Linked DNA regions of Homo sapiens. The protein of the gene in region 1 purifies or fractionates together with the protein of each later gene. This does not show direct contact. Each region holds a gene or a part of one and is shown on either strand. Other genes may lie near its edges.

Region 1 (3,500 bases):
ACCAGGGAGCCTGGGAGATCTGGGCCTGCCCCAGCACCTCCCCTAACCCAGGAGGGGGCCTCTCCCTGGCCCCGAATCAGAACACCCCAGGCCTTTCTCTCCGATCCAACCCACCCCGGGCCCTTCTCCCCGTCCAGTTTAGCTCCGCCGCAGACCCTTCTCCCTGATCCCACTCCACCCTGGCCCCTTCTCCCTGTCCCTCTCCACCCCAGGCCCTTCTCCCGAATCCCACTCTATCCCGAGTCCTTCTCCCCATCCCACTCCACCCCAGGCCCTTCTCCCCGATCCTATTCCATCCCGAGTCCTTCTTCCCGTCCCACTCCACCCCGGGCCTTCTCCCCATTCCTGCTCCACCCCAGGCCCTTCTCCCCGATCCTATTCCATTCCGGGTCCTTCTCTCCATCCCACTCCACCCCGGGCCTTCTCCCCATTCCCGCTCCACCCCAGGCCCTTCTCCCTGATTCACCCCTCAGCATCGTCTCCCTCACCATCTTCTACCTTTTCAGCCTTTCCTTCCCCTCTGCGCACTATTTTCTTTGGTGTTGTTCATTTTTACCTGTTTCCCGAATGTTCCATTCCCTTGCACACGATCTCCAAGGAATGTCCTTTCCTCTTTTCCATCGCAGGAACTCCTATCCATCTCTGAGGACCCAGACCAAATGTCCCCACCTCTATGAAACCTGCCCGCTTCTTGAAGGCAGAAGCTGCTCCACATACTATGTTCGCGTGGCATCGCAATGCCCGACAGCGCTGATGACGCTGCATTACAAAAACCCTTCTGTTCTCCAAGCCACTTCCACTACCCAGGACTGTCTGTGTCTCTCCCTCATCTCGGGGCTTTGTGCACTGTGTGCAATTAATGAATGAATGAATGAATGAATGAGAAAATGAACTATGGATTCTTGGGATCTCCTGGAGATTCTCTCTGCTTCTGGATTCCACCTGGGTCCCTGTTGCTACCTCAAGACCCAGCACCTCCTCTAGGGCCTGGGAAGGAATGGTGGGAGGGAGAAGGGGACGACGGACTCAGGCAGCCACTTTCCGTGTCACAGAGTCCTGGCCAGTTCCATGGGCAGGTTCAGTCTTTAGATGGTGGCCCTGTGGTGCTGTGTCCTTGCAGGGAGCACAGAAGAATGCCTCTCTGTCATCCACGGCTCCTGAAAAAGCCCATTTGCTCTTCTGCAGGGAGAGTGGGGTGGTGCAGGAGCAGGGGGAGATAGGGGACGAAGACTGTCACCTCTGGGTTACAGATGGTTCCTCTGCTGCCACCCCCCCTCCCCGCCCCACCCCAAGTCCACTGGTCAACCTGGCACCGGGGCCAAGCTATGCAGGTGCCGGCATGGGTGCATGCCAGTCTCCTGAGCCCCCTTCCTGCACTATCAACACACACCAGGTGTCCCAGTCAGTGATGGGGCAGGGGTTCCTAGGTAGCGTGTTACTGATCATGGCTGACACACCAATGCTTGTGGTCATCTACTTTTCCTTAACGAATTGGAGCAGATGGAACGCCTTAGATCCGGATCTCGGTTTTACTGCCTCTCATTGGCCCTCAGGAGCAGGCAGGAGAGAACTGTCAGGAGAGCTGGAGAGGAGGAAGAGGGTGGGGACCCAGGTAATGCGCAGCCTGGTGGCCTCTCCCCTCTCCCGTCGTCCATGGGGAGGACCCATAAAAACGGCTGACCATTCGTGACTGCCGAGACAACTGCCCACATCACCTACTGAATCTTTAGGCGCCTTCCAATAAGGAGGCTGCACCCGTGACAGTGGGATGTCACCAGAAACACTGTGCTGGACAGAGGGAGGCAGGGCAGTGGCGCTCCGGCCTCAAGACCCAGGTGCCCTCAGGGGACTGTGCTCATCCTCCAGGCCCTATGGGGCCACTTTTGGGGATGGAGAATGAGTTCAGGTCATGACGGACTTGCCTGGTTGAAGTAACTGCCTAGATTGGTTCAAAAGCCTGGAAAGAGGTGCTCTTGCTGCTCAACCCCAGGGCCTGCCTCTGCATAGGGTAGCCCCGGCCCAGCTCCCTACTGCAGCCTGTGGGGCCAGGTACCCCCAGGGCTGTACTGACAGCCAGTCTCACATGCCCCTACCACGTTCCACTTCAGGGGAGGAATGACCTGAGCCTAGCTCCCGGCAACTTTTCTCTCTCTTACTGACTCCAAGTATCTTGACTTTTGCTTGTGGCATTTTTTTGTGTGTGTGTCTTGCTGACCTTTTAGAAAGAAGTCAGCAGGACTGCATACAGTAACACATGTGGGGCGACACCTGGCCCAGGGAATTTCTGGAAGGTCACCTAACAGAATTGGTCATTTGTGTTTTTCTCACAGACTCTTCCTCAATGACCCCAGGAAGCCTCCTGTGCCTTCCTTCTGTTGTCATTTTCTCCTTGGACTCAGCTTTTCTGCCTGTGAAATGGGCCCCTTACCTAGTTCACTGTGCTAGGACGAGGAATGCAGAGAGGGCACAGAAAGTGCACCATGCCCTGCCTGGCTTTTCTGTTGCTGAGACAGGGTCTTGCTCTGCCACCCAGGCTGGAGTACACTGGTGCAACCATGGTTGATGGCAGGCCCTACCTTCTGGGCTCAAGCGATCCTTGTACCTCAGCCCCTCCAGAAAAGCAGGGCCTACAAGTGCGTACACCACCATACCTGGCTAATTTTAATTTTTTTATAGAGACAGTGTCTCCCTATATGTTGTCCACGCTGGTCTCAAATTCCTGGCCTCAAACGATCCTCGCATCTTGGCCTCCCAAAGTGCTGGGATTACAGGTGTGAGCCACGACACAGCCTGCCTGGCGTGTTTTAACTACTGCAGAGTACTGGCTCCATTTCCCAAAAATCCCCACCCAGGGGTGAAAGCTAGCCTGCCTATCCTGCCCTCCTTAAGTAGCCCCCATTTCCACATTCCCCCATGGAATCCCCATTTCTATGGCTGAGCAGCAGATCTCTGGGGCAGGAAGGCGGGTAGGCATGTGTAAGTTGTGATGGAGCCCCCAGCCCCCTAGGCCTCATCCACCTCAGCTCGGTCTCCAGCTCCAGCGACTCATAGGAACACCACAGATGCACGAAAAGCAGCCGGGTCACTCCTTATGGAAGGCGTGCCAGCCGGGCACAGCAGGTCCCATCCGTCCTTCTAGGGCGGCCAGTAAAGAGCCTTTCTGGTAATAAATGTAATGAACATGTGATCATTCTGCTGACTGCAGCCTGCTAACAAGCTTACGATTAGGATCACCGAGATTCTCCAAGTGCCCGAGTGTCTCAGCCTATTACATGGAGGTGACACGCTCTCATACCACCCTGGGAAATGCAGGATGGCTCCTGGCAGCACAGGTGGCAGTGGGCACCAGTGGGCAAGGTTAGAAAGGCATTGAGACCCAGAGCCCAGAGTGGAGACCAGGACCCTGTGTTTGTCCAGAACAACAGTGTTTCCAAAGGGCTTCCACCCTCTATTCACGTGAACCTTCCATTGACTAAAATGTAGGCTTCTTATTCCTGTTT
Region 2 (3,174 bases), on another chromosome or scaffold:
GGGCGCCTGTAGTTCCAGCTACTCGGGAGGCTGAGGCAGGAGAATGGCGTGAACCCGGGAGGCAGAGCTTGCAGTGAGCCGAGATGGCGCCACTGCACTCCAAACTGGGAGACAGAGTGAGACTCCATCTCAAAAAAAAAAAAAAAAAAAAAAAAAAAAAAAAAAAAAAAAAAAAAAATCAGAAAGGACAAGAAAAACAGTTGACTGTGTTAGGATGCAAGGCTGAATCTCTGCACATTCTATTTCCTCTGAGGCAGTGCTTATTTTCCAAGGAAGAATTTTTGGGTGTGCTATACTGGAGGTCTCCCTTCTCAGGGAGAGTCATCACTTGCTCCAAAACGCTGGACCTCAGCTCAAGGGCACCACTGCAGGAGGAATAAAAAGGTGGAGCCACGCAACAACTCGTCTGTGTTCCGCAGTAGGCTCTTTTTGAGGGACTTCCAGAAATGACAGCATGTGTGCAGAGAACAGAAAGCAAAGTTACACTGTTACAGAAGGCACAGAAGGAAAACCTTCGGCTACTGCTATCAGTGGAATTTCTCTGTAGCCAGACTGAGGTCTGGTGGCATTTGAGATATAATATAGATATAGACCTACAAATACAGATCTCCAGGCTGTTCATTCAACAAGTCTTTATTGAGCACCTACTCTGTGCCCAGCACTGCACTAGGTGCCATGAGAATACAAGAGTAGTATAAGATGTTATCCGCCCTCCAGGAGCTTACAAAACTAGAGGCAGAAATAAGATGTACATGTGACTCAGGCAGCATGTGACACACACAAAGTGGGCAGCTCTGAGACAATGGTGGTCAAGTGACCACTGAGGCCCAGAGCCGTTGGAACAGTCTCTTAGAACAGGGTGGAGGACTTAAAACTTGGATGAACAGGGGCTGGCAGAGCACTTGGAATGGGTAAGGACAAGACTGGGAGATCAATTTGGCTGGAGCAGGGGAGCTTGTGTTAAACTGTGATGATGAGGGGCACCTGGACAGAGGTTGGGTCCGTGGGCAATGAGAAGACATGTTACTCCCTCTCTTGACATGAAGACCTGGTGGGCTTGTGGCCTCCTGCTGCCTTCCTTTCCCTGTCTTCCCATCTCCACTCTCTCCTAGGAAAGTGGAACCTGGATGCTGGTAGGGCCAGAGACAGAGGCTTAACACCCTGCTGGGGAACCCGGTCAGAACTCCCGAGGCAGGAGAGGTTCTGCTCCACTGGATGTTTGTCTTGGTGTTTTTGGATGTGCTGATCAAGAGCAAGATGTTCTGGATTCTTAAAACTCCCCTCACAAGGACCAATCTAGAGATAATTTATTGATCAGTGATCACAGCTTGTACCCCAAAGCCGTGTATGTCTGGATCCTTCCCTAAGACCACAGATAGCTCCAGGGAGTCCCACCTCCTTGGCTATGGAAATATGCTCAGCCCTGGTTTCAGAGAAGCCTGGACTCCACTCTGGACCCCATGAGATGATATGCGCTGGTACTCCAGGCTTTAAATGGCCTGGGAAGCCTCAGTGGATTTTGTTTATTTTCAGCATTGCCATGTATGCTTAACTCTGAGTTGGGGTGGGGTAGGTCTGTTTAAAATGCCAGGGAAGGTGGGCAGCAGAGTGGATTTGTGCAAGAAGGAACCTGGGGGGTTTAAGGACAGCAAAATGATCTTAGGCGTAATTGACTGGTTTTTCTGAGGTCTTGCCACACTGGGCAAGAAAATGCTGCATCGGGCCCTTATTCCAGAGAGTGCAGAGCTGGGGCCAAGGTCGTGGTCAAAAAGGAAAGGAGCCCTCATGGACTCCAGGGTCAGAAGTTCCCTCGGGAAACCAGCAGGAGGTGGGAAAAGAGCCCCATTAGGGCAGTAGATGGAGCAACAGCACTGAGTGAGATTTCAGGGGGCCACAGCAATGGGGAGGTGGCTACCAGTGGATATGGGGTCCCCTGCTCCAGGTGCTTAGGCCAGGCATCCCGTCCCCCCATTGAGAGTCCTGGAATTCCAAAGAAGTGAAGCATCTGAGGGTTGGGGCTGGGGGCAGATGTCAGGGCTCAGGGTCTTAGCAGGAGGCGTGTTCCTGGCCACTTGAGCCACAGGAAGGGGACCAGGCGCCGGGTGAAGGTGGCAGTGAAGGTGTAGATGAGTTCCTGTGACTCTGCGTTGGTGAAAGTCACGGTGCCCCCTTCATAATCCAGGGCGATGCCCACTCTCCGGGGCCGCAGTGCTGGGAAAAGCTCAGCCTCGGGGCTGGTGTTGGCCCAGATGCCGGAGGAGGAGAGGCGCAGCGCCCACACGCCATCCTCTGGCCGCAGGGAGAGGTCTCCCTTCCTCTTCACAGAGTCTCTAGCCACCCCCACCATGCAGCTTTCCAGAACTTCCTCCTCTTCCTCCTCCTCTTCTTCCTCTTCATCGCCCAACGATTCCTCATCTTCGTCCGTTTCCCAGTCGTCATATCCATCCCCATAGCCGGCCTCCTCTTCCTCCTCCTCCTCTTCTCCCTCTTCCTCCTCATCCCCCTCTTCTTCATCCTCAGACCAGCCCTCCCTCTCCACTTCCACTTCCCAGTAGACCTTGCCCCAGGTGAAGCCCTTGCTGCCTAGCACCCCAGGCTCACAGTCAAACTGCTGGGGGTGCAGGTAGGCACTCTTGTACAGGCTGGTGTAGGTCACGCACTTCCAGTCCTCTGACAGCTGCAGGTACCCACTGGCCGACTGTGGGTCCAGGGTGACGCTCACTGTGGGGACAAGGGAAAAAAAAAAAAACAGCATCACTGTTTTGTTTTGTTTTTTAAGTCAGAGGGAATAAAATTTATTTTGGCAGATAGCGTTAAACAAAATTAAAGTTGCATACATTAGTAATATAACTCAACATCCTTAATTTGGTATAAGTGTGACACATTTTCTGGCTTTGTATTCTGCTAAATCACCATAACTAAACTGCTTTATAAACATGATATACTGAAATTTAACTTGACTGTTTTCGCTTACGCTCTGATTCCAAACAAAACTTTTCATAAGCTTCCTCTATCTCTGGATCTCTGGGTCCAACTCATCATTAATATCATCCAAGTGTGGATCACCAGTCCCTGAAAAATCTGTTCCATTTTCTTCATAATCCAGAAAAAAAGTCCTCTTTTTCAAGTAACTCTTGATATGCTTCTTGGTAATCCGGATCAGCTGCAGTGAAA

What was found. The genes of interacting proteins can lie anywhere in the genome.
Region 2: the proteins of MSRA (region 1) and TRIM26 purify together in Homo sapiens (affinity purification with mass spectrometry; one large-scale study listed by BioGRID and IntAct). This does not show direct contact.

What each region holds. Positions count from the first base shown.
Region 1 is NC_000008.11:10,421,292-10,424,791, reverse strand, and holds part of MSRA (mitochondrial peptide methionine sulfoxide reductase isoform a precursor), read right to left. Parts: intron 1-3,500. UniProt on the Homo sapiens protein: Has an important function as a repair enzyme for proteins that have been inactivated by oxidation. Catalyzes the reversible oxidation-reduction of methionine sulfoxide in proteins to methionine.
Region 2 is NC_000006.12:30,183,838-30,187,011, forward strand, and holds the end of TRIM26 (tripartite motif-containing protein 26), read right to left. Parts: intron 2,722-3,174; coding exon 2,039-2,721; 3' UTR 618-2,038; downstream 1-617.